7 linked regions of the Homo sapiens genome follow. The protein of the gene in region 1 purifies or fractionates together with the protein of each later gene. This does not show direct contact. Each region holds a gene or a part of one and is shown in the gene's direction. Other genes may lie near its edges. The genes, in order: OR10H2, DAGLB, NDFIP1, ANO5, CLTCL1, DHRS7 and SARAF.

The links.
Region 2: the proteins of OR10H2 (region 1) and DAGLB purify together in Homo sapiens (affinity purification with mass spectrometry; one large-scale study listed by BioGRID and IntAct). This does not show direct contact.
Region 3: the proteins of OR10H2 (region 1) and NDFIP1 purify together in Homo sapiens (affinity purification with mass spectrometry; one large-scale study listed by BioGRID and IntAct). This does not show direct contact.
Region 4: the proteins of OR10H2 (region 1) and ANO5 purify together in Homo sapiens (affinity purification with mass spectrometry; one large-scale study listed by BioGRID and IntAct). This does not show direct contact.
Region 5: the proteins of OR10H2 (region 1) and CLTCL1 purify together in Homo sapiens (affinity purification with mass spectrometry; one large-scale study listed by BioGRID and IntAct). This does not show direct contact.
Region 6: the proteins of OR10H2 (region 1) and DHRS7 purify together in Homo sapiens (affinity purification with mass spectrometry; one large-scale study listed by BioGRID and IntAct). This does not show direct contact.
Region 7: the proteins of OR10H2 (region 1) and SARAF purify together in Homo sapiens (affinity purification with mass spectrometry; one large-scale study listed by BioGRID and IntAct). This does not show direct contact.

Annotation. Positions count from the first base shown.
Region 1 is NC_000019.10:15,726,328-15,730,098, forward strand, and holds OR10H2 (olfactory receptor 10H2), read left to right. Parts: upstream 1-1,696; 5' UTR 1,697-1,716; coding exon 1,717-2,664; 3' UTR 2,665-2,725; downstream 2,726-3,771. UniProt on the Homo sapiens protein: Odorant receptor.
Region 2 is NC_000007.14:6,413,087-6,417,558, reverse strand, and holds part of DAGLB (diacylglycerol lipase-beta), read left to right. Parts: intron 1-637; coding exon 638-718; intron 719-804; coding exon 805-932; intron 933-4,472.
Region 3 is NC_000005.10:142,132,246-142,136,717, forward strand, and holds part of NDFIP1 (NEDD4 family-interacting protein 1), read left to right. Parts: coding exon 1-97; intron 98-3,484; coding exon 3,485-3,572; intron 3,573-4,472. UniProt on the Homo sapiens protein: Activates HECT domain-containing E3 ubiquitin-protein ligases, including NEDD4 and ITCH, and consequently modulates the stability of their targets. As a result, controls many cellular processes.
Region 4 is NC_000011.10:22,199,207-22,203,678, forward strand, and holds part of ANO5 (anoctamin-5), read left to right. Parts: intron 1-4,472. UniProt on the Homo sapiens protein: Plays a role in plasma membrane repair in a process involving annexins. Does not exhibit calcium-activated chloride channel (CaCC) activity.
Region 5 is NC_000022.11:19,221,894-19,226,365, reverse strand, and holds part of CLTCL1 (clathrin heavy chain 2), read left to right. Parts: coding exon 1-147; intron 148-732; coding exon 733-913; intron 914-2,311; coding exon 2,312-2,475; intron 2,476-3,556; coding exon 3,557-3,682; intron 3,683-4,272; coding exon 4,273-4,415; intron 4,416-4,472. UniProt on the Homo sapiens protein: Clathrin is the major protein of the polyhedral coat of coated pits and vesicles. Two different adapter protein complexes link the clathrin lattice either to the plasma membrane or to the trans-Golgi network.
Region 6 is NC_000014.9:60,142,989-60,146,350, reverse strand, and holds the end of DHRS7 (dehydrogenase/reductase SDR family member 7 isoform 1 precursor), read left to right. Parts: exon of another isoform or gene 1-1,337; coding exon 1,338-1,385; 3' UTR 1,386-2,232; downstream 2,233-3,362. UniProt on the Homo sapiens protein: NADPH-dependent oxidoreductase which catalyzes the reduction of a variety of compounds bearing carbonyl groups including steroids, retinoids and xenobiotics.
Region 7 is NC_000008.11:30,072,757-30,077,228, reverse strand, and holds part of SARAF (store-operated calcium entry-associated regulatory factor isoform 1 precursor), read left to right. Parts: intron 1-3,173; coding exon 3,174-3,352; intron 3,353-4,472. UniProt on the Homo sapiens protein: Negative regulator of store-operated Ca(2+) entry (SOCE) involved in protecting cells from Ca(2+) overfilling.

The DNA of each region.
Region 1 (3,771 bases):
GAGAGCTGCCCTGGCAGAGAAATTGGGCAGATCTGACTCTGTGGCCACTCAGGGAAGGTGATGAGAGAAGCCATGGCTGATAGCCTAGGTTTTTGCTGTTAGGTTTGGGATTGGAGGATTGGGGTTGGGGTCAAAAAGAGGAGGAGACCAGCAGAGTCACGTAGTGGAAGCATGCTGGGCCCATAGCCTAGAGGTCAGTGGACCATAACCATTTTCTGCTAAGAAGTTTTTGACTGGGCATGGTGGCTCACACCTATAAATCCCAGCACTTTGGGAAGCTGAGGCAGGCTGATCACTTGAACTCAGAAGTTCAAGACCAGCCCGAGCAACATGGTTAAACCCCATCTCTACTAAAAATACAAAAATTAGCCAGGTGTGGTGATGCGGGCCTGTAATCCCAGCTACTCAGGAGGCGGAGGCAGGAGAATTGCTTGAACCCAGGAGGCGGAGGTTGCAGTGAGCCGAGATCATGCCACTGCATTCCAGCAGGGACAGAGTGAGACTCTGTCTCAAAGAAAAAAAAAAAAAAAAGCGGAATTGTGATAGAGAAAGAGTAATTCACACAGAGCTGGCTCTGCAGGGGACTGGAGTTTTATTATTACTCAAATCAGTCTCCCTGAGCACTTGGGGAGCAGAGTTTTTAAGGACAACTTGGTGGGTGGAGGGGAAGCCAGTGAGCCAGCAGTGCTGATTGGTCAGAGATGAAATCAAAGCTGTCTTCTTGCGGAGAGTCAGTTCCTGGGTGGGGGCCACAAGATCAGTTGAGCCAGTTTATCGACCTGGGTGGTGCCAGCTGATCCATCAAGTGCAGGATCTGCAAAATATCTCAAGCACTGATCTTGGGAGCAATTTAGGGAGGGTCAGAATCTTGTAGCCTCCAGCTGCATGACTCCTAAACCATAATTTCTAATCTTGTGGCTAATGTTAGTTCTACAAAGGCAATCTAATCCCCAGACAAGAAGGAGGTCTGCTTTGGGAAAGGGCTGTTATCGTCCTTGTTCCAAACTATAAACTATAAACTATAAACTAAATTTCCCCCAAAGTTAGTTCACCCTATGTCCTGGAATGAACAAGGACAGCTTGGAGGTTAGAAGCAAGATGGAGTTGGTTAAGTTAGATCTCTTTCGCTGTCTCAGTCATAATTTTGCAAAGGTGGTTTCAATTTTCCAGGGGAGCAATGAGGCTCAGAGAGGGGAAGCAACCTGCCCTGCATCTCACAGCTAGAAAGCAGTGGTGCCGAGAATTAAACAGAGTCTGGACGTTTCCATGACATAGGGAAGAGATGACTTCCAGCTGAAGGTGGCAATCAGGGAGCAGCTTGCTCATAAAATTCAGGTAGGATTTGGACCCATAAAGATAGGGAAAAGCATGAAAAGACCAGCATGAACAAAGGCAGAAAAGCAAGGTGTAGGTGGTGGTGCATGGATCTAATAATCGTGATGGCAATAACAATAGCAGAATAATTATTACTATCAACATTTATAATTTATTAAATTCTTACTTTGTGTCAGGACCTGCACAAAGCACTTAAGGTGAGTGATCTTATTTAAACCTCAATACATTATTATTAATGCCTTTCTGCAGATGGAGTAACCATGGCTTGGACAGATGAAGGAGGCGCTCTCAGATGTCCTCCCAGGCAGGAATCACTAGACACCCCCATGCTCCTAACCACTGGGTCTTCTTTCCTCTCTTCCCCAACTAGGGGTGGCCGTCATGCTGGGGCTAAACCACACCTCCATGTCTGAATTCATCCTCGTCGGCTTCTCTGCCTTCCCCCACCTCCAACTGATGCTCTTCCTGCTGTTCCTGCTGATGTACCTGTTCACGCTGCTGGGCAACCTGCTCATCATGGCCACCGTCTGGAGCGAGCGCAGCCTCCACACGCCCATGTACCTCTTCCTGTGCGTCCTCTCAGTCTCCGAGATCCTCTACACCGTGGCCATCATCCCGCGCATGCTGGCCGACCTGCTGTCCACCCAGCGCTCCATCGCCTTCCTGGCCTGTGCCAGTCAGATGTTCTTCTCCTTCAGCTTCGGCTTCACCCACTCCTTCCTGCTCACCGTCATGGGCTACGACCGCTACGTGGCCATCTGCCACCCCCTGCGCTACAACGTGCTCATGAGCCCACGGGGCTGCGCCTGCCTGGTGGGCTGCTCCTGGGCTGGTGGCTCGGTCATGGGGATGGTGGTGACCTCGGCCATTTTCCAACTGACTTTCTGTGGATCCCATGAGATCCAGCATTTTTTATGTCATGTGCCACCTCTGTTGAAGTTGGCCTGTGGAAATAATGTACCAGCTGTGGCCCTGGGCGTGGGCTTGGTATGTATCATGGCACTGCTGGGCTGTTTTCTCCTCATCCTCCTCTCCTATGCCTTCATCGTGGCCGACATCTTGAAGATCCCTTCTGCTGAAGGTCGGAACAAGGCCTTCTCCACCTGTGCCTCTCACCTTATTGTGGTCATTGTGCACTATGGCTTTGCCTCTGTCATCTACCTCAAGCCCAAAGGTCCCCACTCTCAGGAGGGTGACACCCTGATGGCCACCACCTACGCAGTCCTCACGCCCTTCCTCAGCCCCATCATCTTCAGCCTCAGGAACAAAGAACTGAAGGTTGCCATGAAGAGGACCTTCCTCAGCACACTCTATTCCTCAGGCACCTGAGTAGCTGGTGTGGAAGTGCTGATAGAATATGATAGGAGGATGACCATCACCTTGTCTGCACAGTGTGGCTAGTAATGCTTACCTTGTAAGGCAGGTGTAAAGATTTCTGTATATGACAACACTCATCACATAGTAGGTGCTCAGTAAATGTTAAAAGCATGTTTACTTCCACAACTCTTGATCTGTATGTCTTTATCTGAGTTTTAATTTTTGAGTTATAGTAGCTTTATTAAGATGTAATTCACCTACCATACAATGTACCCATTAGAGCGCACATTTCTGTGGTTTTTGCGTATTCAGAGTTATGCAACCATCATGACAATCTGGCTTAGAGTATTTTAGTCATCCAAAAAAGAAACCCAAATCCTAGTGCTTTGGAAGGCTGAGTGGGAGAATTGTTTGATGTCAGGAATTCACGATCGGTCTGGACAACATAGTGAGATGCCATCTACACACACACACAAACACATACACACACACAAGTTCTTTTTTTTTTAATTTATTACACTTTAAGTTTTAGGGTACATATGCACTACGTACAGGTTAGTTACATACATATACATGTGCCATGTTGGTGTGCTGCACCCATTAACTTGTCATTTAACATTAGGTATATCTCCTAATGCTATCCCTCCCCACTCCCCCTACCCCACAACAGGCCCCAGTCTGTGATGTTCCCCTTCCTGACACACACAAAAATTCTGATAATTAGCTAAATGGGGTGGCACATTCCTGTAGCCCCAGCTACTCCAGAGGCTGATGTGGGAGGATTGCTTGCATCCAGGAGTTCGAGGCTGCAGTGAGCCATGATCACCACTGAACTCTGACTTGGGCAACAGAGCCAAACCTTGTCTCAAACAAACAAACAACCCATACTCATTATCAGTCACTCTCTGTTTCCTCCAAATCTCCATGCCCTCCAGCCCTAGGGAGCCACTAATCTTTCTGTCTGGTTAGAGTTGCTTTTTCTGGACGTTTCACATCAATGGACAACTGTAAATATAATTCTTTTATTTTCAGATGAATTGTTTCACTGAGCATAATGTTTTTGAAGTTCTCCTACATTGTAGCTTGTATCAGTACATCATCTTTTTTTTTTTTCAAGAC
Region 2 (4,472 bases), on another chromosome or scaffold:
ATCTGACCAGCCGTAGGAACTTGGCTGAAGTAAATTGTGATATGTTCACACAGCACAAAACGGTGTAGCTACAGAAAAAGCCACAGAAATGTATCTGTGGAAAGATGTTTGGTTGTTTTGGGTTTTTTGTTTGTCTGTTTGTTTTTTGAGACAGGGTCTCACTCTGCTGCCCAGTGGTGCGACGATAACTCACTGCAGCCTGAACTTCATGTGTTCCAGCGACCCTCCCACCTCAGCCTCCCGAGTAGCTGGACTATAGGCGCTCGCCACCAAGCCCCGTTAATTTTTTTTTTTTTAGTAGAGTCAGGATCCAGGCTGGTCTTGTATTTTTATTTTAGTAGAGACTATGTCGCCCAGGCTGGTCTTGAACTCCTGGGCTCAAGTGTCCTCCTGCCTTGGCCTCCCTAAGTGCTGGGATTACAAGCGTGCGCCACCACACCTGGCACCTGCTTCACGTCAGGCGCTGTGCAAGGTGCCAGGAGCACAGCCATGCACGATGGACGTGGCTGCTGATTCTGCAGTCTCAGATCCCAGGAGAGACTCACACATCAGTGCACAGCGTCATCCCATCTTTGAGTCTCTGCTGGGCCTGCCTTGTCTGAGGATTAACGGCCACCTTCTTTGTCTGTGTTTTTAGGGTATTTCTCAAGCTGCCAGATACGTTTACCAACGACTCATCAACGACGGGATTTTGAGCCAAGCCTTCAGCATTGCTCCTGTGAGATCTTAGTTAACGTTTCTTTCCTTGTCCTCTTTGGAGCTGTTGTTTTTACCCTTCACCTCATTCTGCTGTCTGTCCTCTAGGAGTACCGGCTGGTCATAGTGGGCCACAGCCTCGGGGGCGGGGCGGCCGCCCTGCTGGCCACCATGCTCAGAGCCGCCTACCCGCAGGTCAGGTGCTACGCCTTCTCCCCACCCCGGGGGCTGTGGAGGTGAGCCTTTGTTTTCCTGCTCTAACAGCTTGCTACTTACAAGTCATGTGGTCAAGACTCATCTTTTTTTTCTTTTATTTTCCTGAGATGAAGTCTTGCTCTGTCGCCCAGGCTGGAGTGCAGTGGCGTGATCTCGGCTCACTGCAAGCTCCACCTCCCAGGTTCAGGCGGTTCTTCTGCCTCAGCCTCCCGAGTTGCTGGGACTACAGACACCCGCCAGCATGCCGGCTAATTTTTGTATTTTTAGTAGTGGTGGGGTTTCACCATGTTGGCCAGGCTGGTCTTGATCTCCTGACCTCAAGTGATCTGCCCGCCTCGGCCTCCCAAAGTGCAGGGATTACAGGCGTGAGCCACCGCACCCAGCTGAGGTTTGTGTTTTGAAGCGCTATTTCACAGAAGAAAGTCTGTCTAGCCTTTCTTAGACCTATGTGACCATACCTGTAATTTCCTCAATGATTTAATTCTAAGAGTCTTTTTTCAAACAGACTTTATTTTTTAGAGCAGTTTTAGGCTGACAGCAAAACTGAGCAGCAGATTGTAGGGATCTCTCATACCCTCCCTCCCCACAAGCAAGCACAACCTCCCCCATTCTCACAGCCCTGGCAGAGGGGTCCGGTTGTTGACATCCATGCGCCTGGTAGGCACATCGCCCAGAGCCCGTAGTATGCTGAGCACTCCCTCCGCCCTCTCGGGGGGCATATGCCCTGGGTGGGGACACATGCATAATGCACATGTTTAAAGACATTTTTATGAGTTTGAAAATTACTTTTTTTTTTTTTTTTGAGACGGAGTCTTGCTCTGTCGCCCAGGCTGGAGTGCAGTGGCGTGATCTCGGCTCACTGCAACCTCCGTCTCCCAGCTTCAAGCGATTCTCCTGCCTCAGCCTCCCGAGTAGCTGGGACTACAGGCGCCCGCCACCACACCCGGCTAATTTTTTGTATTTTTTTAGTAGAGACGGGTTTCACCGTGTTAGCCAGGATGGTCTCGATCTCCTGTCTTCTGACCTCATGATCCGCCACCTTGGCCTCCCAAAATGGTGGGATTACAGGCATGAGCCACCACGCCTGGCTGAAAAGTTTATATTTTTTTTTGCTGATTCCAGCATACTGACTGTTCTGTGTAACCTTTTGCCATGATTATAAAGGAAAATTATACCACTTTATTTCATTAAAATGAAATAAAGGCCAGGCGTGGTGGCTCATGCCTGTAATCCCGGCCCTTTGGGATGATTAAAAAGTATGTACGTAAAGAACAAAAAGAGCTTTTCTTCGCACACTTGGTTTCTTTGACATATAGTTCACACAGGAAAAAACAGGAGAATGTATAAGTGCTTAAATCTTTCCCTCAATAAAGAAGTGTTCAGAATAATGAATTGTTGCCTAGCAGTCTACAGAGGCAGACATTAATTTTTTAAAACTTAAATTTCAGTCGTCTGTTTTCTTGCTGTCTTTTTTTTTTTTTTAATTGACACAGAGTGTCACTCAGTCTCCCCAGCTGGAGTGCAGCAGCACAGTCATGGCTTGCTGTAGCCTCTGCCTCCTGTGCTCAGGTGATCTTCCGGCCTCAGCCTCCCAAGTAGCTGGGACCATAGGCGCACACCACCACATCCAGCTAATTTTTGTAAGGAACAGGGTCTTGCTATGTTGCCCAGGCTGGTCTTGAACTCCTGGGCTCAAGTGATCCTCCTGCCTCACCCTCCCAAAGTGCTAGGATTAAAGGTGTTGAGCACTGTGCCTGGCCTCATTTTCTTGCTTTCTCAAGAATATTCTCAAGTTTTGGGCTTGAAATGAGCAAGTATTTTTTTTTTCCATCGTCCATATCTGGAATCAACCGTTTCTCCAAGGAATATTGGTTCCTTTTAGCAGGAAATGGTATTTCTGAACTGAAATCGGGGCACTGGTAGTTCTCATTACCACAGGGCTGGTCATAATTTCCAGGCCTTTTCATTGGAAAGAGGTAGGAAAGGCTTTTGTTACACCAAAGAGAAAATGTAACTGTAGTGTATAGTGATACTTAAACATCAGGAGGCTGGGCATGTTGGGTCACACCTGTAACCCCAGCGCTTTGGGAGGCTGAGGCAGGAGGATCACTTGAGCCCAGGAGATCGAGACCAGCCTGGGCAACATAGACCCGGTTCCTTACAAAAATTAGCTGGACGTGGTGACGTGTGCCTGTGGTCCCAGCTACCCGGGAGGCTGAGGCAGTAGGATTGCCTGAACCCAGGATGAAGAGGTTGCCGTGAGCCGAGATCGTGCCACTGCACTCCAGTCTGGGTGACAGAGCTACACTCCGTCTCAAAAGAAAAAAAAAAAAAATTGGCCGGGTGTGGTGGCTCACACCTGTAATCCCAGCACTTTGGGAGGCCAAGGCCGGCAGATCATGAGGTCAGGAGATCAAGACCATCCTGGCTAACACGGTGAAACCCTATCTCTACTAAAAATACAAAAAATTAGCTGGGCGTGGTGGTGGGCGCCTGTAGTCCCAGCTGCTTGGGAGGCTGAGGCAGGAGAATGGCGTGAACCTGGGAGATGGAGGTTGCAGTGAGCTGAGATTGTGCCGCTGCACTCCAGCCTGGGAGACAGAGCGAGACTCCATCTCAAAAACAAAAAAGTCCTTTCTGTCACCCCAGAGGTAGAATGTGGTGGTTTTGACTGGTGTTTCCATTATGTCCATGGCTGGAAGGAAGCGTGTCTGTGTTCCTCTCCTCCTGTTGATGAAAGCCTGCACCTTTTCCCTGCTCTTCTGTCTCTGGTCGTGGCTGTTCACTTTCACCGCATGTCCTGAGATGACCCCGCAGTGGCACACACAGTCCTCCTCCTTCTCCCAGCTGTGCGGGACGCACTATTATGTGACTCGTTGTTGGGAGCTGAAGGCAGTTCTGTGGATGGGTGTTTGGAGGCTCCAGCCTCTGCCGGTGCAGGTTCTGCCGCAGTGAATCGCCTGTTGCCTCTGCCCCTTCATTTTTGCTGGGGCATCTTTTTTTTTTTTTTTTCTTTTGAGATGGAGTCTCGCTCTGTCGCCCAGGCTGGAGTGCAGTGGCGCGATCTCAGTTCACTGCCAGCTCCGCCTCCCGGGTTCATGCCATTCTCCTACCTCAGCCTCCTGAGTAGCTGGGACTACAGGCGCCCACCACCACGCCTGGCTAATTTTTTGTATTTTTAGTAGAGACGGGCTTTTACCGTGTTAGCCAGGATGGTTTCAATCTCCTGACCTTGTGATCCGCCTGCCTCGGCCTCCCAAAGTGCTGGGATTACAGGCGTGAGCCACTGCACCCGGCCTCCAGTGCATCTTTGATGGAGTCTTCCAAGCGCGGTTTCTGGGTCAAAGGACAGATCCATGTGCTTGGTCCGCCTTGGTGTCCAGTTTGCGGTTTTAGCTGCGGGGCGTCTCTGTTGAACACATATTGTGGCTTTAGTAGGATCTGGCCAGTGAGTTGCCATAACTGACGTTTCCCCTACCCTCCCTTTAGAGAAGAGAGAACAGAGCTGAGGCCTGGGAACCTAACCCCTCAGTGTTACTGATTTCTTTCATGGAAGCCCT
Region 3 (4,472 bases), on another chromosome or scaffold:
AAAGCCCCCATCTTACAATGTAGCTACAACACTGCCCAGTTATGATGAAGCGGAGAGGACCAAGGCTGAAGCTACTATCCCTTTGGTTCCTGGGAGAGTGAGTATAATTTGCCATGTTACTTGATGGCTGCTCTGTGGGAATTAAGTTATTTTCATTATCCAATTTTGATTCGTTACTTATGATTGTATTGATTAGTGAAAGTAGAGCTAATTTTAAAAATCAGGTACATTTGCTTTTGGGATAATAAACTCATCTCTTCTTAAAAATGATGAGGTAAATTACTAGTCAGACCTGCTCATTTTTCCTTCATCTCTCCTATTACCACTACTTTTTCAAGTCTCCTGGGATGGCTGAAGTATCTTGAAGCAGAAGCACACTAATGTTTCCTTGATTCTGCACACTTAATATTTTGCTGTTGGGTGGATAGCTGCTAGGGAGGTCTAGGAAGAGAATAAATATATGCAAATTTGTAGAATTAAACTCATAAGAGGGATCTTCACATTGATTTAGATGAACTCCGTTCTTCCAGCAGTCCAGATCATGTCATTTGTGGGGACATAGTGAGTTCAGATTCCATCTAGCCTGATGTTGATTCATGGAGGTGGAGATTGGGATGCCATATAAACCAGTGGAGATTATTGGGCACTCTTGGTTCTTGATGTCAGATATGTGAGTGCTGCATTTGTCATTTTGTAAATATTCATCCAGATTGAGGCTGATGAAGGTAGGGCATTGTGGGAGAATGGAAGCAGGATAAGTCCCCAGAAATGCGGGGACCATCAGGCCTCTAGGCTCTATTCTAGCAAGTAACTGGAGTGAGTGATGAGCAAGTACAGAAGCCTAGTCTGGGCAGTGTGATGGCATAGGCCCAGATGTTCCCCTCTTGGCTTTAAGATAGTAGACAGTTTGCAGACCACACCTACTGTGAGGAGCGAAGCTCCTAAAATCATTGCTTGGTAGAAATAGTTTATGAGCCCAATCTAGGATGATCCTAAATGGCGATGATGTGCATTCAGTTCTTACAGGTACCAGGGAGAAACTAAAAACCCTAGTGTCTAAGGGCAAGACCATCATAATGTAACTGCCGTATATTGGAAGCAAACCACATGCTTGGTACTGTGCTTGATGCTTTTATATATTTTGTATATTGTTTCCAATCTTCATAGTAACCTTGAAAGGTAGAGATTATATTATCTCCATTTTACAGATGTGAAAATTTAGGTCCAGAGAGAAAAAGTAATTTTCCCAAAGTCATATGACTGATAAGTAGCAGAAGTGAAAGTCAAACCCAGATATTCTAGAATCCAAAGTCCTTGTTTGTTTCACTGTACTCTGCAGATCTGTTGCAATATATGGTAAATAGATCAGTATGGAAATTAGCTCTGATTAATCACATAACTCTTCAGAATACTTTCATTTGATACAAGTACATATTTAGGAACTTCTTAAAGGGCTCTAGTATTCAGCAGACATGTATAAAGCACTTTTTAAATATAAGATGCAGTATATTTTACAGTGGATAGGTAAAAAGCTTTGTATAAGGCAGTGTTCCTCATTGTTATTCAAAAGCCTAAAATCCAACTAGGGTAAAGGGCCCACAAATACTGATAACTAAGACACATAAGAGCAGTGGGCATCAAGAACTGAAACTTTTTACTGGGTGATCATAGGGGAAAATGAGATTTGATGTGGGCCCGGAGTTTTGATGGGTAAGAACATTCCAGAGGGAAAAAGGCACAGAAAGCAGGTGTGAATTCAGCCAGGTGAAGGCAGTTCTGTGGATGTAGTAATTGGCTTTGTATGAGCAAGAGTTTGTGAAGGGAGATAGAAAGTCCTGACTACAACTGTTGTTTATAGAATCTTTGGAATGTTAGATGGGCGTATTTAAACTTCATATGTAGCTTTTAGAGAATCCTTCAGAGTTTTTGAGCAGGGGTATGAGAGGACTTGTGTGGTGTTTTGGAAACATTAACTTGGCAGCAATTTCTAGGATGCATCATGGTAGAAGAGATACCAAGAGGACAGGAAGAACAGTTAGAAGGTGTTCGTAATATTATTAGATGTTACTTCCATATATTTTTTGGAGTATATCTTTGAATAGTTATGCAAAAAACAATTAGCTTTTAATTTTGGCAAAACCTTATTCTGCTGATACGAAGTAAGAATACTAGGTATTTAATGTTTTAAAAAATTAATTATAAAAATTCGTTTTTATAGAAATTTCAAACAATAGAGGAAGTATGTTAAGTTAGAAAAGGAAGCTGCCATTGCCACCGACTTCCCTTTCTCTAGTTCCCACTCCCCAGGGGAACCACTGTTAACAATTTGGGTCTTCCAGACCCTTTTCTGTGTACAACAAGTTTTGATATTCCCTAAAATATTTTTCATTTAAGGAGCCCTCATTGAACTGTGTACAAATCTATCACTTTTAAGTATATATTCAATTATTTTTAAATATCTCAACACACACCTATATCAGTTAAAAAGATAGCCCACATGTGTTGGTATTGTTCATGATCATGTTATTTCTAGTTTTGCAATATTACGTTATCAAGTTAGGATGGAAAAGATCTTATCTGCTGATAAGGTTAGAAGTGAGATTTAGATCTGTATACCAATACAAATACATGCTTATGGAGTTGAGCAGTGGGCAGTTCTGTGGACTATTCATGTATGATCGTACTATTCTTTTTTCCCCTATATCAGCCTCGTAAAGCACTTGAGCTGGTTGATTTTATCTTTTTTTTTTTGAGACGGAGTCTCACTCTGTTGCCCAGGCTGGAGTGCAGTGGTGGGATCTTGGCTCACTGCAAGCTCTGCCTCCCGGGTTCATGCCATTCTCCTGCCTTAGCCTCCCGAGTAGCTGGGACTACAGGTGCCCGCCACCACTCCCGGCTAATTTTTTTGTATTTTTAGTAGAGACGGGTTTCACCATGTTAGCCAGGATGGTCTCGATCTCCTGACCTCGTGATCTGCCTGCCTTGGCCTCCCAAAGTGCTGGGATTACAGGCATGAGCCACTGCACCTGGCTGATTTTATCTCTAATTACTAATATTTTAGGTCCTAAACAGGTCCTCGATTACTGATATTCTAGAATTTAAACCAAATGTGTAAGTAAATTTTGTCTTTTGTCTTTTCTTGAGGTATATTTTTTTAAAGGAAGAGTAAATAGTTCTTTGTGAACTATTCTTGAAGTGTATTGTTTTTGAAGTGTATTAAATTTTTGAAGTGTATTGTTAAAGAACTTGGGTTATAAGATGAAAATTTCATTTAGAACACTGGGGATAGAAGAAAGATTTGCTTCTTTTCTAATTATATATTAATAATGCAAAATGGAATTTTAAACACACATTGAGCCTTTAATGCTCATAATTTTGAACTGAACCAAAGCAATAACTTTTTTCCTTGCTACTCAAATTTAACCCTTCATTTTTCTTTATGTCTTCCCTTTGCCTAGAAATAATTCTTTTTCTTTTCATTTAGGATGAGGATTTTGTGGGTCGGGATGATTTTGATGATGCTGACCAGCTGAGGATAGGAAATGATGGGATTTTCATGTTAACTTTTTTCAGTAAGTATGTATGCATATCAGAACCACCCCCTACAAACTAGAGTGCTTTGGATTATGGGTGAATCTGACTGAATTAAAATAACTAGTTGAGCTAATATATTAATACATTATGTTTATTTGGTGCCTTTTACTGGAATATTCAAAGCTTAATATACCTTTGTTTTAATATCCCTTCTCTTTGCCTTCTATTTTCATGAATATCTGTGGAAAATATAATTAAAGCAGTTATGAGGATGCTGCATTTTTACATGAGCTAAGCCTCATCTTCCAGGTCTACGGGGCCCTTTTGCGTTGCTTCTACTCATACTTAATCTGTAGAATAGGAATTAAATGCCTTTGATGAATTTTGCTCTGAAAGCTTCTTTTTTCTGACAGATCAAAGTCAGCCTGATTTTCTCCCTTCATGTTACTTGCCATTTATCTTTTTGTGTGCCTCACATAGAAGTGAGCAACCATTTCCTTTATTTGTTGTATTAGAAAGATAAGAAAATGCAATGCTTTTAGAGGTGATGTTATATAAGTTGTCAAAATTCAGAGAACAGGAGGATGAGTGACTTGAATCAGATTATTTGGGGGCACTTATTTAATGTTGAAGGCATTTATTTTATTTACTGGACTATATATATATAACACACACAGTAAAAAGCAGAGGTCAGGCTGGGCATGGTGGCTCATGCCTATAATCCCAGCACTTTGGGAGGCCGAGGCAGGCAGATGCCCTGAGGTCAGGAGTTCGAGACCAGCCTGGCCACCATGGTGAAACCCCATCTCTACTAAAAATACAAAAATTAGCTGGGTGTGGTGGCAGGCACCTGTAATCCCAGCTACTCAGGAGGCTGAGGCAGGAGAATCGATTGAACCCGGGAGGCAGAGGTTGCCGTGAGGTGAGATCGCACCATT
Region 4 (4,472 bases), on another chromosome or scaffold:
CAGTTTTGAAGCTTAACAGTAGAATAGAATAATAACAACAATATCAACAAGAATAACACCTGCTTACCTCCTATATGCCAAGTACATGCATTATCTATTTAGTGCTTACACAAACATTATGAGATAGACATACCACTTATGACAGCTGAGAGCTTTGAATTTATGTCATACTCTTGCAATGGATGCTAGGAAATGTTTTGTTTGCTTGAGTACATTACTACACCATATAATTGAGGTTCTATTAGCAAAGAAGGAGGAGGAGGAGGAAAGATATTTGTCAGTAGCCTGTAGCCTCTGCTGTATTAGTCACCCACCATTAAGTCTTTCCTATTTTATTAAAGGACATCTTCTCAAATTTCTCATGCTTAGGAGTCTTCTATTTCATCTTAACATAGTTTTATGAAAATAGGTATATTTTCTAAAACAAAGTAAATTTAGTGATAAGAGTGCATTGTTCTACTTTAAAAAAAATCTCTTTGATCTCTGGCCTGATAAAATATAGGTATTCTCGTATCTGCATTACATTCACTCTGTTGTGATGTGTTGTGTTTTGGTTGAAGTGTATGAAAAAAATCTGGCCTCTTAGAGATCTATAGTTGAAAAGGGAGGATAATTTTAGAAAGTTTTTGAATAATTATGGATATTCTTCTCTGATTTGCCCCCAAATTCAACGAATAATAGGTTCTTTAAAGTTAGATATAATGTAGAATTTGAAACCATTGAAATGAACTTTTATTTCACTGCTGCATTAAAATCTATTGGTCTGTCCTTCACTTTAAATGTATCTTTTTCTCATGCATGGTTTTGTAACATCATGTATTGCTTATTTGGAAAACAATTATCTACTGAGTTATACAGATCTTCCAAATGCTGACATATTTCATTTTAAAATACCAAAACGTAATGCTAACATCATCACTGATCTTATCAGGAATGCCTTGGGAATCTGTTAAGCACACAGTGACGGTCATAAGTTTACAAAAATTATTTCATTTGCAACTCAAATTTTGTCATTGGCAATAAATACTGTCAGGTGTTTTCCATGAAGTGATAGATTCATGTCATTAATGTTTGAGGTAATATCTGACAAATAGTCAGGTCTGTATGACTCTATATGTTTTCCCATCATACTTTCAACTAAAATGGTGTTTTATGAAAAATTTAGCTACTTTACCTTGCAATGTAAAGTACTTTTTCATGAGGCAACCATGGTACTTTGGAATGCAGCATCAGCGCTTCATGCATTCTTCCTGTTTCTTTATAGATTATTAAAAATTTGTGTGTTCAGGGTCAAGATTTTATAAACTTCATAAGCTTTACTGTTTATCAAGGACATTTTTAAGTTAAACTACATTTTTGTTTCTTTTTGTACTGAGAGTGCATGATGGTGGAGAATATAATGACTACTAATATAGTCTGGTGCCATAGCCTTGATTCACATGATGGCACCAGCAGTTTTATCCCATTGTTTTTGCATCACCAGTGCAAACGTCAACAGAATGAAAAAGACAAATATGGTTTTAATATTATTATAAAACTTTAAATACAAAATAAAATGTATAAATTTGACACATACAAAAAGTAAAATAAATTGTATCTTGATGGGGGATGGCAGACAGTACTTTAAAATTGCTGATATAGGATTTGAATTATCACCTAGAAGGAGAAGTTGTATGGGTGTGTTTTGTATGGGTGTGTTATGTATGTGTGTGAGTACTGTTGTCTCTCAGTATCCACAGGCATTGGTTTCAGGATACCCCACTGGTACCAAAATCCAAGGATGCTCAAGTCCCTTATATAAAATGCCATAGTATTTGCATATAACCTATGCACATCCTTGTGCATGCTTTAAATCATTGCTAGATTACTTATAATATGTAATACAAAGGAAATGCCATGTAAATATTTGTTATACCTCTTTGCACAGTGCCTGGTGCATGGCAAGTTATCATTATATTTTGGCTTTTCATTTGCAGCCACAGTGAAAAACTTGGCTCCCTTGTCAGCTCGCTCATTCAATTTTTCAATAAATGTTTATCAGCCGTCTTTCATTTGCCAATCAGTGTGCTAAAAGAACAAAATCAAAAATTGTGCTCACTTTTCAGAAACTTATCTTCTTTTGCGGATAAAAAGATAGTAATTAAAATGCACAAATATTCGTGTAAAATTGAAACCCTGACAAGTGCAAATAGAGATATATCAGATGCTTTGAACTAGCCAGATATGTGAAAGAAGGCTTCCCTGGGGAGAGAGTGACTTTCAAGCTGATATCTGAAGGATGTGAAGAATTACCCAGGGCAAGGTGGGGAGAGAGAGAGTGTGTTATTCCCTTTTGTGCTGTTATAACAGAATACTACAGACTGGGTAATTTATAAACAATAGAAGTTTATTTGGTCCATGTTCTGGAAGCTGGGAAGTCCAAGGTTGGGGACCACGTCTGGTGAGCCCCTTCTTGCTGTGTCATAACATGGTGGAAGGCATCACTTGGTGAGAGAGCATGCACACATGAGATGGCCTAACTTTCTTTCATAACAAATCCATTCTTGCTATTACAAATCTATTCCTGTGATAACAGTGCTAATTCATTTATGAAGGCAGAGCACTCATGACCTAATCACCTCTTAAAGGGCCTACCTCTCAACATTGTTGCATTGCAGATTGTTTCTGACACATAAACTTTGGGAGACAAATTCAATCCATAGCAGAGAGCATTCCTTACAGAGGAATAATTGTGTGTTAAGGCCCCTCAAAGAGGGAGAATGGAACTGAAAGAAGGTATAAGGATCTGAAAGGAGACTAGTGGGCCAGACTTAAGAGCGTGAAAGGGTGAGGTTGGAGAGGTTGGTTGGTTTTAGTTAATTTTAAAGAATTTTATTGTTTGCCAAAGGCAAAAAACTCATATCAAGAATGACCCCATCTTATACTAGCAAAGCTATGACCCATAAATCTGCTTTTTAAAATAAAATAAAATTATAAATAAAATAAAGCTTTCTTACAAACCAGTGTTTATTTTCACATACAGCCTCGTTTTAACCAATGTACAGATCAAAACTCAAAATATTCCTCTGCAGAAAACTTTGGACTTTATTCCCTAGCTGACCTATAATGGTTGAATTTCTGTCAAGTATAAATTTATGTATATAATGGGCTTAATTATTTAAGAGAATAACTGAGGGATTTGTGTGATCTTTGAAAAGGAATTGGACTGTCATACTTGGGTTGTGAAAAAGCTATACAAATGGTAGATTTTTTAAATTTTTTTTTGACTTATACAATTGCTTTATTTTATTATTTTTTACTTATAAGAACAAGCATTTATTTCTCACAGTTCTGGGTGCTATGAAGTCTAAGATCATGGTACTGAACTCAGTGTCTGGTAAGGGCTTGTTTCCTGGCTCATTAATGCCATCTTCTTACTGTGTCTTCACATGATGGAAGAGGGAAAGCAGCTCTCTGGAATCTCTTTAATAAGGGCTCTAATCCCATTCATAAGAGCTCTGCACCATGAGCACATTCAGACTACAGCACCTGAAATACTTAGTGTTTTTTGGCTTTGTAGACACATCATTCTGATTTCTGCTTTTATCTTCACACTGCCTTCTTCTGTGCCTCTGTTCCCTCTTCTTTTCTTAGGAGGACATCCATCATTGGATTTAGGGCCCACCTTAAATCCAGTATAACTTCATCTCTAGATCATTAACTAATTACATCTGTAAAGACTACATTTCCAAATTAGGTTTCAGTCTGAGGTTTGAGATGGACATGAATTTTGGTGTAGGAGAGACATTAGTCAACCCCTACAATAGGTCAATATCAAGTTTCCATATAATAAAGTGTCTTGTTCTGGGCTCTCTGTTCAGTTTCATTCGCCAGTTTTTCTATCGTATTTCTAAAATTATGGTCACTAACTTGAACTTAAAGTGCTAACATTTTATGTGGTTCCCATTGTGATATTTTCTCCAAAAAAAATATATAGGAAGTTTTTGACTTAAATATATCTTAGGGCTTTTTCAAGTTGGAACCACTAGAAAATAAGAATTTCAGTTCTGTATTTAACTTTTTTAGTGTCATAAACTTACTTGAACATGTATTTTAGTGCAAACGACTAAATGCATTACCATTACGGAGCTATCTGTATGTCGGGAAAGTACTCTGGCCTGTGTAGAAACTGGTAGTGTTCTATATACAAGCTGTCTGGTTTGATTTCAGGAAAATAAGGTGAGAGAATATGAAATCTCATGTGGTGAGAACTAAAACATATGAATGGACACCCTATTGGGTATTTAACTCTCAGTGGTTTTGTGGTTATAGGTTGATAACCACATTGATCAGAGTTAAGTTTATTTCTCAGTAATTGAGATTGTATTTTACACATCAGTATTTTATGCTTTTCCTGTTATAGGCAGTTTTAGGTAAGACTTCTTTTGGAGTCTGTTTTAAACAATTTAGCTCCGAATCATCTTGTATCTTTT
Region 5 (4,472 bases), on another chromosome or scaffold:
GGAAATAAAATGTTTACTCATTACGACCGGGCCCACATTGCCCAGCTCTGTGAGAAGGCAGGCCTCCTGCAGCAAGCACTGGAGCACTACACCGACCTCTATGACATCAAGAGGGCTGTGGTCCACACTCACCTCCTCAATCCCGAGGTACTGTGTACCCCTGGGCACTCCTATTATGGCTGTTGTCTATGCAATTAATGTCACATGCTCCCCAGTGTTCACCTGTTGGTGATTGTGGAACTGTGGCCTGAGCCTGTCACTGCCCTAACCTACCATACTTTACTACCAAAAGCAGTTCTAATTCAGCCCACGCACAAAGTTTATCTGCTCAGCAGCATGTCTGGGCCCTGTAGCACCTTTCTTTCTGATATCCACCTTTGACTTAGTCTAATAGCAGGAGTATACTGGTCACCTTTTAACATTGACAACCTAATAGGACTGTCTGAAACCATTAGCAAAGCTAAACTAGCTATTGTGTTCCAATTTATGGAATAAGTTTTAGCATCATCTGTGGAATATTCCAGGTGAACAGTTTAGATCAGTGTCTTTTCCCAGCTTTACTCCTTGCTCCTACTTTTTCCCGTGATGGATAGTTGCTTTTCAACCCCTTTATGTGGAAATTCTCTGTATTTTTGACACTCAGGGGAACAGGAGAATGACCTAGTTATTTTCCAAGTGTTAGCAATCTTTAGAGTGGTGCATCGTTGTGGACAGACTCTTCCTTGTTCCCAGTGGCTTGTCAATTTCTTTGGCTCCTTATCGGTGGAGGATTCTGTGGAGTGTCTGCATGCCATGCTGTCTGCTAACATCAGACAGAACCTTCAGCTGTGTGTGCAGGTGGCCTCTAAGTACCACGAGCAGCTGGGCACGCAGGCCCTGGTGGAGCTCTTTGAATCCTTCAAGAGTTACAAAGGTAAACCATGCAGCCTCTCGCCGACCCCACCATGTGACTACACCTCCTTTCTCAGGTGTTGCTGCCTACCTGCCCGCCTTAAGACGGCCTTCCTGCAAAGCCAGGCAGGATGCAGCACTGGCTGCCTTGGGTGCTCAGTCGGTGGCAGAATGCTACTGCCATCTCATGTGCACCCTCAGCTTCAGTAACCTTTTTGGTATTTCCAAAGGAAGAAATCAGGTTGGTTGGTGATGGGATGGAGAAACTTATGGAGCCCGGTGTGTCTACGCAGCACAGTCTGGCAAGAATTCATCTAAAAGCCTGTGTCGTGGGTACAGTGAAAGGGCCTGATGTCTGGTCTTTACAGCCCCAGGAGGGAGGCTCTTTGGGCCTCTCCTAAATGAGAGCCCACGATAGAGGGTGCATTGCTTTGTGGTGTCTGCTACCCAGTTGATTGTGGGGGGCTGACAAGGTAACCTGGTTGTCTTCCTTTCCCCTTCTTGGACATCACACCAAAAAAGTGTTCTAGGGCAGTTGGGATGGGAGTGGCTTTGTTAGGGACAGATGGGGGCTGTCTGGCCCACCCAGGATAGAGACTAAGCATTTGTCTAGGCATCAAGCCACTGCCATGTGTCCAGTGAGGTTGGGGCATCGGTGGAGGGTGGGACATGACCCTGTCCTCAGGGAACTGGCCTTCTCTTTAGAAGACACCCCTGTAGGAAAGACCATGGCAGACGATTGAGTGGAGCTGGGCTGGGAGAGGGCAGTAGAGTAGGTTGGTGGAGAACCGTCAGCCCAGGGGCTGCCCATTCCCTTCCTAGCATCAGGGTCTCACAGTTACAGTGAAAGACCTCGACAGGGAGGGGCCTTCTCAGATGTGTCGTACCCTGTTGTTACTGGTGCCTCCTGGCTGGCCTCTGTAATGATGAGGAACATCATTAGCCTCTGTGAATGCTGTCCTCTGGGGCTCACCCTGGGGCTCAGCATGTGGTGCCCATGTCACTGTCAGCTCTGTGTTGAGTTGCAGGCCTCCTCCTGGAGGCCATGGCTTATTTCTCTGTCCCTTGATGTGTCTTTTTAGAGAAGCAGTCCCACCACCATTTCAGATTACCTCAGTGGGAATTACTCTTGATGACGACTATCTAGGTATACCTGGGCCCACAAAAGGAATTTCACTTGTACCAAATATCTAGTATTTTACATCAAAACATGCCAGGTATACCTGCCAAATATAATGGAAATCCGACTAGCTATTTTTGGGAGCTGCCAAAACAGACAAATGGCATATTGATTATGAGTTCTGAGTGTGCTGTGGGTCCCTGGAGAGTGGAGCAGGGTCATCGAGGGAAGGTGGGCAGCAGCTACGGAGGAGACAGGCAGGTGTTACAAGGACAAAAATGGAATGGTCTCTCTTCATAGGCCTCTTCTACTTCCTGGGCTCAATCGTGAACTTCAGCCAAGACCCAGATGTGCATCTGAAATACATTCAGGCTGCCTGTAAGACAGGGCAGATCAAGGAGGTGGAGAGGATATGCCGAGAGAGCAGCTGCTACAACCCAGAGCGTGTGAAGAACTTCCTGAAGGTGTGTTCCAGTGCTGCCTCCTTCCATGAGCTGCCCTTGCTGATGGCAGGTGGGGCAGACCATCCGCAGGACGTCCCAGGGGCAGGAAGCTGGATCTGTCTCGCCAGGGACCCCTTAGTCCCAGGGACAGAGCTCCACTTTATGGCTTAAAGTTCTAAAGTAACCCTTCTATCGTTTTAAGAGTGTGGAAAGCAGCTTGAGGCTGTGCTCTAAGTATCTGGCACTTATTGCTGCATTGTAATTCATCAACATCCCATTAGTGCCATTGTCAATTAGGCAGGCAAAGCTGCAGAAACAAGTAGACCACTCAGCACTAGTGTCATAAAGAACAGGAAGCCTACTTCCTTATGTGGCAGTCCAGGGTAGGCTGGAGGTCAGTGGGGTGACTTTCCTTCCCACTGTACTTCAAGGACCAGCTTCATGGCTGCTTTGCCGTGTTCAGCACCTCACCTGGATGTCGTCTTCCCAGTCAGCTAGAGGAAGGGAAGAGCACAGAGGAACCAGCATAGGTGGTTTTTATGGGCGAGGCCTGCAAGTGGCAGATGACACTTGGATTCACGTTCCATTGGAGGAAATGAGGTCATGTGGCCACACTTAAAACTTCAAAATGTGATCTAGGCACGGGACCACATGAGGGGAGGCATGATTGTGGTGGCCTGTGGCTGTCCTACCCAAGTGCCATCATCATCTGGGAATGGTGGCCGGGTGTGTTTCCATGGCCTGCGGCTGCGTGTCTGAAAAGGCAGCCCTTACCGCAGGTGTGCTGTTCTTGAGAATGGCCTGGTTTCTGTTGGGTTTGCACATAATGAGCTGCTTGTCTTAAAAGATATTTTTGTCCAGATTTGGAATGTTAATGCCAAATGTAGCAGTCTTTAACCAAATACTAATATCTTTCTCTCACTTATTTCCCAAAGCAAATGCCATACCACAAAACGACAGCCTATTTAGAGCAGTCTCATTCTGAGTCTCCTGTGTGTCACTCTGCTGCAGAGACAGAGCCGTCCCATGTGTGCAATGAGTCCGAGGTCTGGCTGTCTGGTTTCTCCACTCCCTGACTTGTTCTGTGCATTCTAATCCTCAGGAGGCCAAGCTCACAGACCAGCTTCCCCTCATCATCGTGTGTGATCGTTTTGGCTTTGTCCATGACCTTGTCCTATATTTATACCGCAACAACCTGCAGAGGTACATTGAGATCTACGTGCAGAAGGTACTGCTGGCTCCCTGGAGTGACACCCGGCTGCCTCTGGGCCCCAGTCAGTGGCAGTCTTCCCCTCAGAGGCTGCCTGTAACACCTGACATTTCAGAGACTATCATTTTGAAGGGTGGTGGGTTCGTGTGCTCAGACTGCCAGAGTAGAAGACCACAGTCCAGGCAGCTGAAACAACACACATTTATTTCTCACAGTTTTGGAAGCTGGAAGTCCATGATCAGGGTGTCGGCAGGGCTGGTTTCTGGTGAAGGCTGTCTCCCACGCTTGCAGACAGCCTCCTGGCTGTGCCCTCACAGGGCCTTTCCTCTGTGCATGTGCACTCCTGGTGTCTCTTCCTCTTCTTAGAAGGACACTAGTCCCATTACATTAGGGCCCCACCCTTGACATTGATTACCTTCTTAAACACCCTCTTTCCAAGTAGAATCCCACTAGGGGTTAGGACATCAGCAGGTGAATTTTGGTGGGACACAGCGCAGTGCTAAACAGGAGCCCTTTCAGGGTTTTGCCCAAACTGTCCACGTCGTAGGAGGCTTCTAACAATAACTTGTGTTTGCAACACTGAAGTTACTTGACCTTGACTACCCTAGGTCAACCCTAGCCGGACCCCAGCTGTGATTGGAGGGCTGCTTGATGTGGATTGTTCTGAGGAAGTGATTAAACACTTAATCATGGCAGTGAGAGGACAGTTCTCTACTGATGAGTTGGTGGCTGAAGTAGAAAAAAGAAATAGGTAAGGTGTCCTTACTTGGTGTTTTCTCTTACCCCTGGATTCTAGTGTCTGTTGTTG
Region 6 (3,362 bases), on another chromosome or scaffold:
TCAGTCCCACTGTAGTAGTACTTCCAGAAATGTCCATATGAAGGATATTTTGTTTTGTTTAGAGAATATCTAACTGTAAAATATAAACATCATTTAGCAAATCTCGCATTTTTTTTACATCTAGGTTTTTCTAAAAAAATGACAGCCTTTTTCTTCCTACCACCATCTTTGAAATATTGCTTATTATATAGTCTTACTACTTTGTCACTCTTTATTATAAGCTGGGCATTCTGTCATTTCTCAAAGCAATTTTTAGGACATAATACCTCATTCTTTATAGTCTGTACTCTTCCTCTCTCCCACTATTTTATATTTTATATATATGTATATATATAAATTTTCTTATTGATAAGCGTCTAAGTTAAGAAAATGCTAGCATAGCTTATTTCAAGCTAATAGTACTTGTTAACTAGAATTTGCTTCTTTAGTCTGTATGTCTGGAACTTTGTTTTTATGAATCTTTATTATTTTTAGGGATCAAGAACAGTGGCTACACTGAATTTTGTATTATCATTATTATTATTTTGTCTTTCTTAGTGCAAAGTTTTGAAAGTGGTAAATGCATATCTTCTGAAAAGAAACATCACATCTTGGGGATTATCAGGTTGCCTTGTTTTATTCCTTAAGCAATATACAAAAAGTTCACAAATAATTTTTTTTTCTTTTTATTTTTTTTGAGACAGAGTTTCCCTCTTGTTGGCCAGGCTGGAGTGCAATGGCGCAGTCTCAGCTCACTGCAACCTCCGCCTCCTGGATTCAAGCAATTCTCTTGCCTCAGCCTCCCGGGTAGCTGGGATTACAGGTGCACACCACCACACCCAGCTAATTTTTGTATTTTTAGTAGAGATGGGGTTTTGCCAGGCTGGTCTCTAACTCCTGACCTCAGGTGATCTGCCCACCTCGGCCTCCCAAAGTGCTGGGATTACAGGCATGAGCCACAGTGCCTGCCTGGCCACAAATAATTTTAAAGAGTTATCTTCCATATATCTCAATTCTACATAATCTGACTCATTGTTTTTATTTATTAGGGCAAGTCAGTGTAGGTATGATATGCTGATCCAGAAAAGTCATTATAGAGAATTTAGCATTGCAGTCCAATGCTATTTATACCTCCTCTAAACCAGAGATGATGCTAAACTCATTAGAAGTACTTTTGTGTACATCTAGAATTTTGGCTATGATTTTTAAATTCTAATTTAAGCAGTTTCTGAACTTTTGTAAAGATTCTTAATAGTGAATCATAATGATACAGCTCCTCAAAACAGAAGGACTTAAATGTTAAAAACTGGAGTAAATAGGAGTAGGTACTGATCCATGTTTCTGTCCCTCTTTTACAGGATGCAGACTCTTCTTATTTTAAAATCTTTAAGACAAAACATGACTGAAAAGAGCACCTGTACTTTTCAAGCCACTGGAGGGAGAAATGGAAAACATGAAAACAGCAATCTTCTTATGCTTCTGAATAATCAAAGACTAATTTGTGATTTTACTTTTTAATAGATATGACTTTGCTTCCAACATGGAATGAAATAAAAAATAAATAATAAAAGATTGCCATGAATCTTGCAAAAAAGGTATTAACTCATACTATATTCTTGGATAAAATAACCTTTTAAAATACTTTAGCACATATGCTTAAAATCTAAGTTAACAGATTTGTCTTAGTCCATTTGTGCTGCTATAACAAAATACCACAGATTTGGTAATTTATAAACAACAGAAATCTGTTTTTCCTGGCTCTTGAGGCTGGGAATTCCAAGACCAATGCACCAGCAGAATTAGTGTCTGGTGAAGGCTGATCTCTGCTTCCAAGATGGCACCTCATTGCTGCATCCTCCACAGTGGAGGAATGTATGTCCTCACATGGTGGAAGGGACAGAAGGGAAAGAGGAGCAAAATGCTTTCAAAAGAGCATTTAATCTCATTCATTACTCAGTCACCTCTTAAAGGCCACATCCTTTAATACTGTTGCTTTGGGGATTAAGTTTCGACATGAATTTTGGAGGGGACAAAAACATCCAAACCATAGCAACATAAATGTATAGAATATTTCACACAAAGCAGAGTGCTGGGTAATGACCAGATATAAAGAAGTATTTGAAATGACCTTACCTCCAAGATGCTTATACTCTTAGAAAAGTTGACAGGTACAGATGGCTGTAATTTGAAGCAGCAGGTAGGATTCATTGCACCTATTATTCATTAAACACCTGTTGTATGTCTTCTACTGTACTGGAGTGCTTAGTATTAGTTAATTAACTCATTCCTCATAACAGCCCACTAAGATAGATGGTATTACCTACCTTGATAGATGAAGAAAGACCAACAAGGTTTTACTTTTCCAAGGTCAAGGTCACAAAGCTAGTAAGGGGTAAAGCCATGATTAGATTCAGCTCAGGAAGATTCCACTGGCAACTCCTTACTTCTACTATTATTAATTTTACTTTAACATTTAACACCTTACAGCAGAAAACATGCACAGGCACTAATAGGAAATCAGCAGGAGTAACAGGTAAAGAAAAACATGGTCCTTATCTACAAGCAGTTCACAATTGAGCTGGAGCCAAAGTAACATACATAAAATAACTGTAGAATAGTTGTTGGGCAAGTTGGAAGCCACCCAAGTGGCTGTCCTTGGAAAAGGGGGAAGATGACATGTGGTAGAGGTACACGATGAGGTATAGCGGGTAGAAGCAATGGAATAAATGCATACATAACAACATGGATATGTACTAGAGGCATAGTCATAAGTGAAGAAATAAAGAAGCAACGCTAACACAATACTGTTCACATACACAAATATATGTGCACAGAAGATAGTGCTCATTTTGCAAGAAAACATACAACCTAATTAGATATATATTTAGGTATGGTAATAGTTACTTAGGATGGGGAGGAAACGGGGTGAACTATGGGGATAAAATATAATAAAGAGAGGACTCTTGCGTGACCAGTGATGAAAACTGGAATAACAACATTATTTATTGAATACAACACACCAATTATAAGAATGAAAAGATTGGAATAATTCTAGAATGCCACAAAATAACATATGTCATGTGGCCTGGTACAGACTATAAGCATAATAGTTCAGAAAAGGGAGATTTGCAGATAGAATCATGTGGAAGCCCTTCCTGATGAAGGTGTCACTTGCACTGGGCCTTGAAAGAAAGGAATTTAGACAGATGAAGAGAAGCTTCAGGAGGCCAGGTTCCAGGTCAGTTTTGTTTTATTCATCACTGAATCTCCAGTGCCTGCCTAGCATTGTGCCTGCTGATGTCTGTTCAACTACTCCAGCCAATGAATGGTAGAAGAGGTATATATAAATTAAAATCTTTAAAGATTCATCTGTATGGCATTTT
Region 7 (4,472 bases), on another chromosome or scaffold:
TTGCCTTGGCCTCCCAAAGTGCTGGGATTACAGGCATGAGCCACTGCACCTGGCAGTTCTGTTGTTTTTAATCTTGGCTGTCCTGTTTTTAATTTCCAAAAGCTCTTGTTTTTTCTCTGAGTATCCCTTTTAAAAATGATTGTTTTATTAACGCAGTCTTTTTCTCTTATCTCTCTGAGGATATTACAGTGTTTTTAAAAAAGTTTTCTTCTTGTGCGTCATCTCTTTTTTCCTCCTGCTTCCTTTTGTTGTTGTTTTGTCCTGGTTGCTGTATTTCATGTTAGGGGCTGTTTTGTCTGTTTAATGTTACTGTAACACAATACCACAGACTGGGAAATTTATTAAAAAACTGAATTCATTTCTCACAGTTCTGGAGGCTGAGAAGTTCAATATTAAGGTGCTAGCATCTGGTGAGGGCCTTCTTGCTGTGTCATCCCATGGTGGAAGGCAGAAGGGAGAGAGTGAGAGAGGGGAAAGGGGCCTAACTCATCCTTTTATCAGGAGTCCACTCCTGCGATAACTAACCCAGTCCTGCAAGAACAGCATTAATCTATTCATGAGGGCAGAGCCCTCTTAAAGATTCCATCTTTCAACACTGTTGCATTGGGGATTAAGTTTCCAACATGTGAACTTTGGGGGACACATTCAAACCATAGCAGGGACTTTCCTCATATTTTTAGTAATCCTTGGCTCCCTGCTCATGGTTAATTCTGGGGAACCAAAAAGCTCATTGGAAGCTATCAGTGTGCAGTTGCACTTTTGATTTTGAACTTCACAACAGGGTGACCTAGGTTGCTCTTTTTTGGAGGAAGTTCCTGATGTCAGTGTATTTAGGTACTTCTTCTTGGTTAGATTACCAAGGGAATAGTCATCCAGTCTCCCACAGAGGACAAGGGGATGGCTGTTAGCATTTTGTGCACCATGTGGGGAAGGAGAACTGTGCTTTCAGCAGTCAGAGTGCACACAGTCACTTGGGTTCCCTGTTTGGTTGTTTTTGTCCCCATGCCCTTTACTATGCCAGATGGTCCCCAATGCAAATCCCTTCAGTTTTATCCTCTCCAGAGAATACATCTCCAGACAGTTTCCTTAGTGGGGAAGAGGGAGTTAGAACAGTGTGGAGTTGGGGAGAGGATCTGGGAATATGGCTTCCTCTCAAGTAGCTTTCACCCTGTAGTGTGTATTCCAGGCATCTCCCATTCCAGAGCTGCCATTTCCCGTTTTTTGTTTTTTTTTTTTTGTTTTTTTTTAGGGATTCTGTTATGTACATCAGGTTGATTCTCAGTTTCCCCCTTTGCTGTTCTGGCATTTGTCTTTCACTTAGGTCTAGTCATCTACCACTAGTCCATTTACTTTCTCCTTCCAAAATTCTGCTGTCATCTCCTCTTTCGTTTTACCTGACCACAGTCATTCACATCATCAAAACAATGTATTTATTATAGTTTTAGTAGAATTTTGGGAGGCTGCAAATTCTGCTAATCTGACAGGTTGAATATAGGGAATTGGGTACTCACAAAATGGTAGAAAGCGATGCCTATTACATCTGCCACATTGAAAAATAGATTGTTCATGTCAAGCTTCATGACAGCCAGGAAGCTGATTAGAGGATACTATCAGTTTGAAAACTCATGGTCTCCATGCCTGTGTTTACTAGCTGAAGGACAGAGCACTGTATAAGTCTAGGGTCTGCTTTCCAGATTTTGCTCGAGTCCCTCTGGTTGGCAGAACTGAAATTGCTTTTGGCAACTATAGCTGCAAGAGGTTTTGGGATTCCTTTTGCTTTGCAGGAAGGCATACCTGTTTGAGGGTGAAGTGGATGTTGACTGAGCCAATCCACAGCATCTTCCATCAATAATCCACAACATGATAAATAGGAAGACTTTGTCCTTATTTTCCAATAATGCATAGAAATTCATTTTTTTTTTTTTTTTGAGATGGAGTTTCATTCTTGTTGCCTAGGCTGGAGTGCAATGGTGTGATCTTGGCTCACTGCAACCTCCTCCTCCCAGGTTCAAGCGATTCTCCTGCCTCACCCTCCCAAGTAGCTGGGATTACAGGCATGTGCCACCACTCCCGGCTAATTTTGTATATTTAGTAGAGATGGGGTTTCGCCGTGTTGGCTAGGCTGGTCTCGAACTCCTGAGCTCAGGTGATCCACGTGCCTCGGCCTCCCAAAGTGCTGGGATTACAGGTGTGAGCCACCACACCCAACCTAAAAATTTCATTTTTGCACATGAATGCCAGACATAATTTTATTGTTTTGACTCCTCCTTTCAAAGTCTCTTGTCAGTATGTTTTAAATTTTTTAGTTTGTGAAATAGTTTAAATAGTTTTGATTTTTAAAATTATGAAATACCTAAAGTATTTAAACATACAGAAGTGTACAATGAACCTACACATAGTCATCACCCAGTTTTATTGAATCTTTATATTTTGCCATATTTGCTACAAATCCCCCACTCCCAGTAATAAAACATTAGGAATAGAGCTAAAATCTCTTTTCTTTCTCTCTCCCTAGACTAGATACTTATTTGAATTTGGTGTTAAATCCTTCCCATACATGTTTTCATGTTGTTATTATATACATATATAGACATTAACAGTATGTAGTACTGTTTTGCCTTTTTTAAAGGTTTATGTAAAGCTGTCATACAAAACATTCTGCAACTTGTATTTTGTTTAAAATGTTTTTGCCATCTATCTAGTTTGATACATGAATTCTAGTTCACTCATTTTAACTGCTATGTAATATTCCACTGTAATAGGTCAGAATGTGTTAATTTCTTCACCTGTTGATGGACATTTAAAGCATTAAATGTGCTTCAGGAACATGCTTATATTCTTGCCATTTTAATTAACCACTATTATTATTACACAGTAGTACAATGTTTCAGGTTAATGAACTTTTTGTTCTTTTGATTTAGCAAAAATGATGTACAACTTGTGCTGTAGAAGCATCTGGCCTGAAATGCAGGGAGATCTTAAAAGTGTGACCTGAATTTTGTTCAGAAGGCCTGAATGTTGTTGGGATAGTTTTGAGAAATAGATTCATCCTCTCTTAGCCATCCTCAGAAGGCAAGAAAGGCATTTCCTATGACGAGAGTTTCGTTAGGATGAACCTTTCTTTCTCTGACACGATACTTACTTTGTGTTCCTCTGTTTTCTTGCTGTTTCAGACAGAATGTTGCTGCGGGATGTAAAAGCTCTTACCCTCCACTATGACCGCTATACCACCTCCCGCAGGCTGGATCCCATCCCACAGTTGAAATGTGTTGGAGGCACAGCTGGTTGTGATTCTTATACCCCAAAAGTCATACAGTGTCAGAACAAAGGCTGGGATGGGTATGATGTACAGGTAATATCCACTACAGTAATGGCAGTCTAAATGGGGTTTTTATTCAGTAAATTGTTTATTGGGACATTATTCAGTCTTTTGAGGGTGCACCTACGGAAATCTCAGATCAGCCTAAAATATGTAAGTAAATCAATCACTCTTCCTGTGGAAGAAATGGCCTCCAAAAGAAATGAACTGATTTTAAAGCCTGAAAATACTCATTTTAGTTTTTGTATCGTGACCTCCTTCTAAGATATTTGTAAATTTTCACAACTTTTTATATACTTGAGGGTGAGGGATAGGGGATATCTTATGGTTGTCATTTTCCTGTCGTTCCTCAAAGAATACCAACCTACCCTTAAGACAAAGTTAAGATAATTAGGAATTATAGATCGTAAATAGTAGGGGTTCATATATCTCTATTGTGCTTCTAGCACTTGATTTTAAAATTGTCTTAGAACTGAGGGTGGTTACTTTTGAAAGGAAGCATTTCGGCAGGTTTCATTGATTGCCTTTGGGACGCTGGTGTTTTGTATACGAGCAGAGCATCTCCTTGAAGTTCCAAAACTGAATATGCTTTAGAGATAGATTTTATTAAATGAATTCAGTTTAAATCACTAGTTACATATTTCTACTTTGTATTCTGACTGCTTTCAAAATTGATTTAAGACGACTGGTCACAAGGCAAGAAACTTATGTTGACGATTTCCCCTCTCCATCAGAATGATATTCTTGTTTGATACAACCTTTATGCGTGGTCTTTGCAATTCAGAGAGGAAGTTGATGTGTACTGGGTGATACTTACTTCACAATATTTTCCCCCAGTACTGCTAAGTTGAATCATAGAATTCTCTGGGTTATAGCAGAAGTCTCACTCCACTTTACTTATGACTTTTAGAGTCTTGATGGGAAAAAAAGGCAGTAATGGTGATGTCATTCATTAAGCATGTATTAATTGCAATATACAAAAATGAATAAGGTAGAATGAAGAAACTGTCTTACTAGTAGAAGAGGTAAGACAGGCACTCAGATTACATGTAGGTCCCAACACAACATTATAAAGTCACGTCTGGTTGGAGCCATTGGGACTTAAAGGATGAGACATTTGTGCTGTGTTAGGAAGGAATGATAACATTTTTAG